2 separate regions of the Homo sapiens genome follow, and region 1 is linked to region 2. A link means that fine-mapping ties the variant in region 2 to the expression of a gene that starts in the linked region. Tissue or cell type: whole blood. Region 2 holds a variant in brackets; the other region holds the start of a gene. All regions are shown on one strand. Distances are from middle to middle. Region 1 holds the start of PWP1 (PWP1 homolog, endonuclein). Region 2 overlaps PRDM4 (PR/SET domain 4).

The links. PIP is the estimated chance that this variant, and not a neighbour inherited with it, causes the effect. A credible set is the group of variants that fine-mapping cannot tell apart.
Region 1: PWP1 starts here. The variant in region 2 is the best candidate, but not a certain one, in a credible set for the expression of PWP1 in whole blood (TOPMed, PIP 0.62).

The regions. Positions count from the first base shown.
Region 1 is chr12:107,683,844-107,688,238 of GRCh38, reverse strand. It overlaps PWP1 (PWP1 homolog, endonuclein), which reads right to left and starts at 2,440. Exons shown (of 15, transcript NM_007062.3): 1 at 2,268-2,440. The coding sequence starts at 2,339. RefSeq lists enhancers at 2,102-2,151, 2,372-2,631.
Region 2 is chr12:107,743,268-107,747,662 of GRCh38, reverse strand. It overlaps PRDM4 (PR/SET domain 4), which reads left to right. Exons shown (of 12, transcript NM_012406.4): 6 at 1,239-1,388; 7 at 3,002-3,120; 8 at 4,381-4,395. All of the region lies in intron 3 of PRDM4-AS1 (PRDM4 antisense RNA 1), which reads right to left. Among named protein-coding and RNA genes, the nearest start is that of PRDM4-AS1, 8.9 kb to the right of the region's middle. The variant G/A (reference allele first, on the strand shown) is at 2,136.

The DNA.
Region 1 (4,395 bases), 59 kb after region 2:
TCATGCTCATTCTACTCCACCTCTTAGTCTTAAAACTCCAAAGACTGGTTTTGGTAAAGTGGCTGTGTGGTACTCGTCTGGTTTTCTTCCAACCATCTCTGACTCTGTCTAGGGCACCTCTCCCTCTCTTCCCTGTGGGCATTCCTTAACAAATCACCCTTACATGAGTCCTCTGTTCTTTTTTTTTTTTTTTTTTTTTTTTTTTTTTGAGACGGAGTCTCGCTCTGTTGCCCAGGCTGAAGAGCAATGGCGCCATCTCGGCTCACTGCAACCTCCACCTCCCGGGTTCAAGCGATTCTCCTGCCTTAGCCTCTTGAGCAGCTGGGATTACAGGCACGCGCCACCACGCCCAGCTAATTTTTGTATTTTGGTAGAGACTGGGTTTCACCATGTTGGCCGGGCTGGTCTGGAACTCCTGACCTCAAATGATCCACCTGCCTCGGGCTCCCAAAGTGCTGGGATTACAGGCGTGAGCCACCGTGCCCGGCCTTAATTTTAATTTTTAAGAGATGTGGCATGGTCACAGCTCCCTGCAGCTGTGAACTCCTGGGCTCATGCGATCCTCCCACCTCAGCTTCCTGAATGACTAGGATTACAGGCACGAGCCACCGCAACTGGCTTGTCCAATTTCTCTCATTTGGTCCAAGTTTTCCTTTCTAGGATTTCATAAATTCAATCTCTTTTTCCTATAAACTCTTCAAATAGTGGTTCCCAGACTTATCTGTACATCAGAATCACCTAGGGAATCTTAAATAATTTAGGCTACACTACAGGCTAATTACAACACAATACTTGGGAGTGGGACATAAACATCAGTATTTTTTGAACCTCCCCAAGTGTGAGATTTTCAATGTGTAGATTCATTTGGAAATCAGTCTTCAAGTATTTGAAAGGCTATATGTCTCTTTTTAATAACTGTTTCCTCCAACAATTTTTATATGAAATAATTTTCTGTCCCTATTCTATAAATGTAACACCGAGTGCCTACCATCAACCAAACCCTGGAGAAACAGTAAATAAAACAGTCTGTGCCCAGGTGGAATTTACAACTACTGGGACTACTCCAATCCGTCATTCCTGTTAACTCCATGTCCAAGCCAATCACATTCCTATCACCATCATCATTATCTTGGTCAAGTACATTCAAATCAACCCCTTTTACTGTTTGGTAGAACTTAACTCCCACTGACATACTATATGTGCACATGTCGACTCCATAAAGGCAGGGTCTTTTTCTATTTTTTTTTTTTTTTTTTTTTTTTTTTTTTTGAGACGGAGTCTCACTCTGTTGCCCGCCCAGGCTGGAGTGCAGCTGTGCGATCTCGGCTCACTGCAAGCTCCGCCTCCCGGGTTCACGCCATTCTCCTGCCTCAGCCTCCCGAGTAGCTGGGACTACAGGCATCCACCACCACACCCGGCTAATTTTTTGTATTTTTAGTAGAGACGGGGTTTCACCGTGTTAGCCAGGATGCTCTCGATCTCCTGACCTCGTGATCCGCCCGCCTTGGCCTCCCAAAGTGCTGGGATTACAGGCGTGAGCCACCGCGCCCGGCGGGACTTTTTCTATTTTGTTCATGCCTATCCCAGGACCCTGAACAATGCCTGGCCTACAGAAAGCACTTAGTATCCAATGAGGAAATTACTTAAGTAATCGTCACCTCTGCTACAGTCTCAGTCTCCAACTCTTGTAGGTTTTTCATGTGTTAGACATTTACCTCTCATCCTCCCTGCTACCATCAACATCTCACTTGGATTACTGCAAGAAATTCCCTATTCATCTCCCAGCCTCACGACATCTTAGCCTCCACACCAGTTTTTCTACACCACATTCATCCTCACTCCTTCAGACACGGAGCACAAGAGTGGAAAGTGGAGTTTTCATGCTCTCTTCCCAGTTATGCTTGAAAATGCACTTGGGTGCTAGTGAAGCTAGTGGTGTTGTCAAAAAGCCTTTTGGGGTATTACCCACCAAAAACAGCAGCCCACCCCTTTCCGGCCCGCTAAGTCCATGTGCGTGCGAATTTGGGAGTGGGGTTGGGCTTGAGGGTGGGAACAGTGAGAAGGCGCGGCCCTTGACTCTCCAGGCTCAGGCGAACCAGACCTTCTGAACTGCAGCTCTAGTCGCGACAATCCGGGCAAAGCCGCCCTCACCCCAGCCAGTCGCACCAGCCAACGCCCCGAGTTCCGGGTCCACGTTCCCCCAGCTGGGCGGACCCCCAGTGCCGTAAAGACGCTGCTCCCCTTGTCTCCCAGCGACCAGGCCTCACCTTGTCTGGTGTCTCTTTGGCCACGCCGCAGCGGACCCAGGCCACGCACGTCACCTGGCGGCTGCGGTTCATGGTCCTCAAGTCAAGGGCGTGTCACGCTAGAAACCAGGCTGCATAGGGAGGGACCACGACCGCACTGCTGCCACACGCTCAGGGATCTGCACAGGGCCGCTGCCAGGGCAGAGCGCATGCGCAGGCTCCTGTTTGGGCAGCGTCGGCGCTCATTTCAGACGTCATTCTGAGGCGCCGAATGAGAAATAGGAGGGGACAAAATGGAAGCGGAAGCAGCCGGGCGAGGAATCCACGTGGGCTGGTCTGGGCTGTGTGAAGTATAGAGAAAAGGCTTTTCAGGACTGCATGTGACGATGCCTGCGGGCTTTGTAAAGGCCAAGAAAATATTTGGGACTGTAGGGGTCAGTCAGAAGCAAAGTTTCACCAATCTTTATTTTGCTTGCAGTTCCGTAGACTTCAAGCTGACAAATGGCAGAGGTTTGTGGTTTGCGTTTTTTAAAAAGCTTTCTCCAAAATGAATTTGTCGTTTCACGGAGATCCCACCATTACATCTCATTACATCCCTAAATGTTACTTTCTCACCTTAAAACATTTAGCACCAAAAAAAAAAGTGAGAAAAAAACATTTAGCACCAATTATATACTAACTATGCAGTAGTGATTTAGTCTTGGCAAACACAAAGGGCTTACTTATGTTGAAGGCGCTGTTTTGAGTGCCGTATCACGTGATTACTTACCCCTTTGTGGGAGGTCTTATTTCCGTTTTACACCTGGGAAAACAGCGATCCTTCCAAAGGTCACACTGCTAGTAAGCGGTGCAGCTGGGATATGAACCCGGGCAGTGTGACTCCCTTGTATCTATGTCATGCTTCTCAGCTAAGATCAGTCATCTGTTAGAACTCGTGAGTGGCTGGACGTTTGTAGAATGGAAAATCTCAAACTAGCATCCCAGAAAAATCTGGGTTTTGATCTCTTGGCTGTGTGGCCCTGTCCTGGTCATTTACCCTCAATGCATCTACCTCTGAGAGAGGCAAGCAAAAGAAACAGGAAGGTGGCTGCTATGGGGAAACAGTGGCAAGGATAAACTGGCAGTACACATGGTCTTTCCCAGTGGCATTGTCAAACGGGGGGTGTCCACCTGTGGGCTCTATTCGGGGACCTTTTTGCAACACATTTATCTTTCTATACAGTATTTTACTTGGTTCTCACAACACTTTGTTTTAAAGATGAAGCTAGAGTCCCCAGTAGTCAAATACTTTCCTACTCAGATCACACACAGAGGAGCTGATACAACTATGAGTTCTGTCACCAACTCTACTCAGCCTAATGCGCTTGGCAATCTCCCTGCCTGAGGAGAGATCCTCCCAGAAGTAAATTGCTCATTGTTTGTGTAGGCAGATTATTTGTCCATTAAGACTTCTCCCCCTGCTCTGTTTCTGTAAGATGATTCTTCTGTGGTTTCTTTGCTTTTAACCCATTTTAGAAAGACCATATGGCAGATAATATTTTTCAAGGATGGCTGCAACAATAGAGTCCTTCACACATGTTTGTCTGCAACGTGATCTTGATATTCCTCCATCAAAGCACCCCCCCCCGCCCCCACCAACTTGAATCTGGGTAGTTGTAGGTCTGCTTTGGCCAATAAAGTATGACAGAAATGATGTTTCCAAGGTTAAGTCATAAATAGGATGCAGGTTTTGCTTCCCCACCACCACACCCACTTCTCCACTTCCACACCCCCCACCCACTCCCCCACTGCCCACCAGTAGAACACTAATGTTTGGAGCCCTGAGCCACCATATAAAGTTTGGCTACTGTGGTAGTCTGTTCTCACACTGCTAATAAAGACATACCCAAGACATGATAATTTATAAAGAAAAAGAGGTTTAATGGACTCACAGTTTCAGTTGGCTGGGGAAGCCTCACAATCACTGCAGAAGGCAAAAGAGAAGAAAGGCATGTCTTACATGGCAGCAGGCAAGAAGAGAGCATGTGCAGGGGAACTCCCCTTTATAAAACTATCAGATCTCAGCTGGGTGCAGTGGCTCATGCCTGTAATCCCAGCACTTTGGGAGGCCGAGGCAGTTGGATTACAAGGTCAGGAGTTCTAGACAAGC
Region 2 (4,395 bases):
AGCAGAAGATTTACGGAGGAGGACACTCATAAGCTTGTGAAAGTGAAGTTGTAGTAAGAATAGAGAACAATATATAAAGGGAGCATCCTCTCTGCCAATGCAGAAAGAAAGACCATATGAAAAATAAGAAATTAAGAATTTTAAGCAAATAATGTCTGCAAGAATACAATTCTTCTGCCCTTTGAAAGAGCAGGCTGCAAATTGTTTTTGTCTTAAGAATGTGTCCTCAAAACTTGGTTGACCATCTTGTTTATAGTGAAGCAAAAGAGTACAGTGGTGTAGCTGGCTCTGACGCCAGTGTCCTATGTTCATAGCATAGGTCACTGGGGTCAGAGCCAGCTGTACCACCGTGGCCATATTTTGGCTCTGCATAACTAACAGCATTTCAACTCAGTTTCCTCTTACAGTTCAGAATTGGAATCTTTTGGACTTTAGGGCATCATACCTAAATGTACGATCTACTTAATGTAAGGGATAATGTACTTGATTGTTGAAGTAATATGGTGCTATTTTTTTCTTTTATTATTATTTTTAATTTTTTTTAAACAGATGGGATCTCACTGTGTTACCCCAGGCTGGTCTTGAACTCCTGGACTCAAGTGATCCTCCCTTCTCAGCCTCCCAAACTGCTGGGTTTACAGGCGTGAACTACCATACCCAGCCAATTTTTCATTAGTGTTTCTCTTATGCACTGAATAGGAAACTTGTCCTGTTGGATCAAAAGAAAAAAAATCAGATCTTACTGAAGTCTGAAGAGTGGTGTAAGAGTAGGTATATATGTTAGTGTAAGGAAGTGAGTCTTTGATAAGAATATCTCTATTAGAACCGTGCTTCTTACTGGATACATTTTAGTAATTAGCATTTAAATTAAAACCTGGGGCTGGGCATGGTGGCTTACACCTGTAATACCAGCACTCTGGGAGGCTGAGGTGGGTGCATCATCTGAGGTCAGGAGTTCCAGACAAGCCTGGCCAACATGAGGAAACCTTGTCTCTATTAAAAATTCAAAAATTAGCTGGGCATGGTGGCACACGCCTGTAGTCCCAGCTATATGGGAGGCTCAGACAGGAGAATCGCTTATACCCGGGAGGCAGAGGTTGCAGTGAGCCAAAATCGCGCCATTGCACTCCAGCCTGGGTGCAGAGCAAGACTTTGTCTCAAAAAAAAAAAAAACCGTGGTGGTAATTTAGCCTGCTTGAACTAAACCCATTTGTATTGCTCAAATTTGCCATCTACAGGGTGTACTCTGTGTGACCGCGCCTATCCCTCGGACTGTCCCGAACATGGACCAGTGACTTTTGTTCCTGACACTCCAATAGAGAGCAGAGCAAGGCTTTCTCTCCCAAAGCAGCTTGTTCTCCGTCAGTCAATTGTGGGAGCAGAAGTTGGTAAGAACCTTGGAACTGTAAAACACTATTACATCTCTTCTTCCTTTGTAGCGTAGAGTTGTAAAAGTGGATGTGTATAATTTAGTAATTATTTGGACCAAAAGTCAATTTATGGCTTAAGATTTATGCTTTTATGGAATATTAGTCTTGTCCACTGATGATAGCAATAAATCAAGTCAAAAACTTTATTGGGAAATCTCTCCTTTGTTAGAATCAGTATTGAGTAAAGCAAAAAATCCTAGACTGAGTCTTTGAAGATTTAACTTTTATTCTCATCTGTCTCATCCACTAACAATTATTCTAACAACACATTTCTTAAAACTTAGTTTCTTTTATAGAAACATGGAAAATTCACCTTATGACACAACTTTAGATCAAATGTTTGTAAATTATATAATGCTCCTTAGATAAAAGGAATAAAGAATGTAGATTGCCAGACTTTACTTACCCATATTTGAATTTAGCATGGCTTCTGAGTTACTGCGACATTTCTTTGGAAATATAAAATTAGGTTCATTATTCTTTTAGCTGCAGTTTGGGTGTGAGTCATTTCAAAGCATCAAACAGTTTAGGTAAAATAGAGCAGTGCTTTAAGCACAAAAGATTTTAGAAGTCTGATTTATTTCTATAGTAATTGCTTTATATTTTTACAATAGAATAATGTTTTCTGTTATTTTTTATTTATTTATTTTTAAGAGACTGGGTCTCACTCTGTTGCCCAGGCTGGAGTGCACTGGCCTAACATAC[G/A]GAGTACAGTAACTCGAGTGCAGCCTTGACCTCCTGGGCTCAAGCAATCATCCTGCCGCAACCTTCCAAGTAGCTGGGACTACAGGCATATGCAATCATGCCCAGCTAATTAAAAAAAAAATTTTTTTTGTAGAGACAGCATCTCACTATGTTGCCGAGGCTGGTTTCGAACTCCTGGCCTCAAGCAGTCCTGCCTTGGCCTCCCAAAGTGTTGGCTCATTATATGTGTGAGCTACAAACTTTTTTATATTTAACTCCAAAATAATGTATTTGGAGAGACATGAAAAGATTCCCTTTGGATAAAACTAGGTTCAGGAATTCCTGATATTTCTTCTTACTCAGCATTTATTGTGAGCCCTATGTTATCTGTTCATTACATTTTATATATTTACAGGGCTAGGACCCACAAGGCTTAGTCACCTCTGAGGAATGCTAGCATATTGTTTTTTTTATTTTTTTATTTTTTTTGAGACAGAGTCTCGCTTTGTCACCCAGGCTGGAGTGCATTGGCCCTATCTCTGCTCACTGCAACCTCCGCCTCCTGGGTTCAAGCAATTCTTCTGCCTCAGCCTCCCAAGTAGCTGGGACTACAGGCGTGCGCCACCACGCCCAGCTAATTTTTGTATTTTTAGTAGAGACCGGGTTTCACCCTGTTGGCCAAGCTGATCTCAAACTCCTGACCTCAGGTGATCTGCCCACCTCGGCCTCCCAAAGTGCCGGGATAACAGGCGTGAGCCACCACGCCCAGCCTACATATTGGTTAAATTCATTGAAAATAAGATTCTTTGCATGGGTGAAGCACCTCTTTCTTCTGTATCTTGCTGTTTAAATCATTGATTGTGTAGTTGGTGTCCTTCCACTGACAGGTGTATGGACTGGAGAAACCATTCCTGTGCGGACTTGCTTTGGACCTCTAATTGGCCAGCAGAGTCACTCCATGGAAGTAGCAGAATGGACAGACAAGGCAGTTAACCATATCTGGAAGGTCAGTCCTGATGAAACTTTTCTGTGGCTTTTGGCTGTTTTTCTTAGTAAGAGGTAGTTAAAAAGTTATGATAAAGTCAAAATCAGCCAGAACTGATACAGTGCCATTCACTGGTCAGTCATTTATTTCACGTACATTTTTTTAAATGTTACATTCATCATTCTTGGTAGCCAAATTATAACATACAGCAAAACACCAGCTACTGGAAATAGAGGACAAACTGTTTTTGTCTCTGTTTTGTGAGTTAATCCAATTATTTTAACCATTTAATGCATTTGAATTACTTGTGACTGCTGAGGCCACAGACTTTGTTTGTATGATAAAAGTCTTACTTTGTAATTAAAACATTCCTCAAATGTTTATCTTAGGAAATAATTCTGGAATAAGAAGCTAAGATTATTTTTCTAGTTTTCTTTTTTTTTCTTCCTTGAGATGGAGTCTTGCTCTGTTGCCCAGGCTGGAGTGTAATGGTACAATCTTAGCTTACTGCCACCTCTACCTCCTGGGCTCAGGTGACTCTCCCACCTCAGCCTCCCAAGTAGCTGAATTTACAGGCACTTGCCATCATGCCCAGCTAATTTTTGTATTTTTGTAGAGACGGGGTTTCCCCATGTTGGCCAGACTGGTCTTAAACTCCTGACCTCAAGTGATCTGCCCACCTCAGCCTCCCAAAGTGCCGGGATTACAGGTGTGAGCCACCGCACCTGGCCTATTTTTCTAGTTTTCTAATGAGGGGTTAGAAATACAACATTTTCACATAGATATCTATTGGGAATGATGCTTGCGAAATTGAAGTAAGGAGAAAATGGGTCTTGTGATCTTTGGAAAGGTAAGGTACCACTGTCATTGGGAACTTTAAATTTGGAATGCTAGGCCCAAGTGGGAAAATCATGACAAGGGATGATCCTCTGCCCTTAATGGACATTCAGTCATTCAGTGCCTACTGTGTGATAGGTGATGAAGACAGGTGGACAGGTAGACTGGTTTTTTGTCTTTTCCAGGCAAAGGTTGAATAATCAAAAACAAAGTCAGTCTCTTCACTGAGCACTAACTGTAGGTCTCTGATGGTCTTTATGTATTGCTGGAAATAGGGAGAATGTTGAAATGATAGCATGTTGGAGAAGTAGGAATATATTTTCCCACTAAGAAAGCTGGGACCTACTGCAAATGAGTAAATGAGGTGATTGCTGGCCTAAGTGTAATGTAGTGCTTTATTGCATGTCAGTGCATTTGACATGTGTGCTTGCTTTCTGTTGGCAGATATACCACAATGGT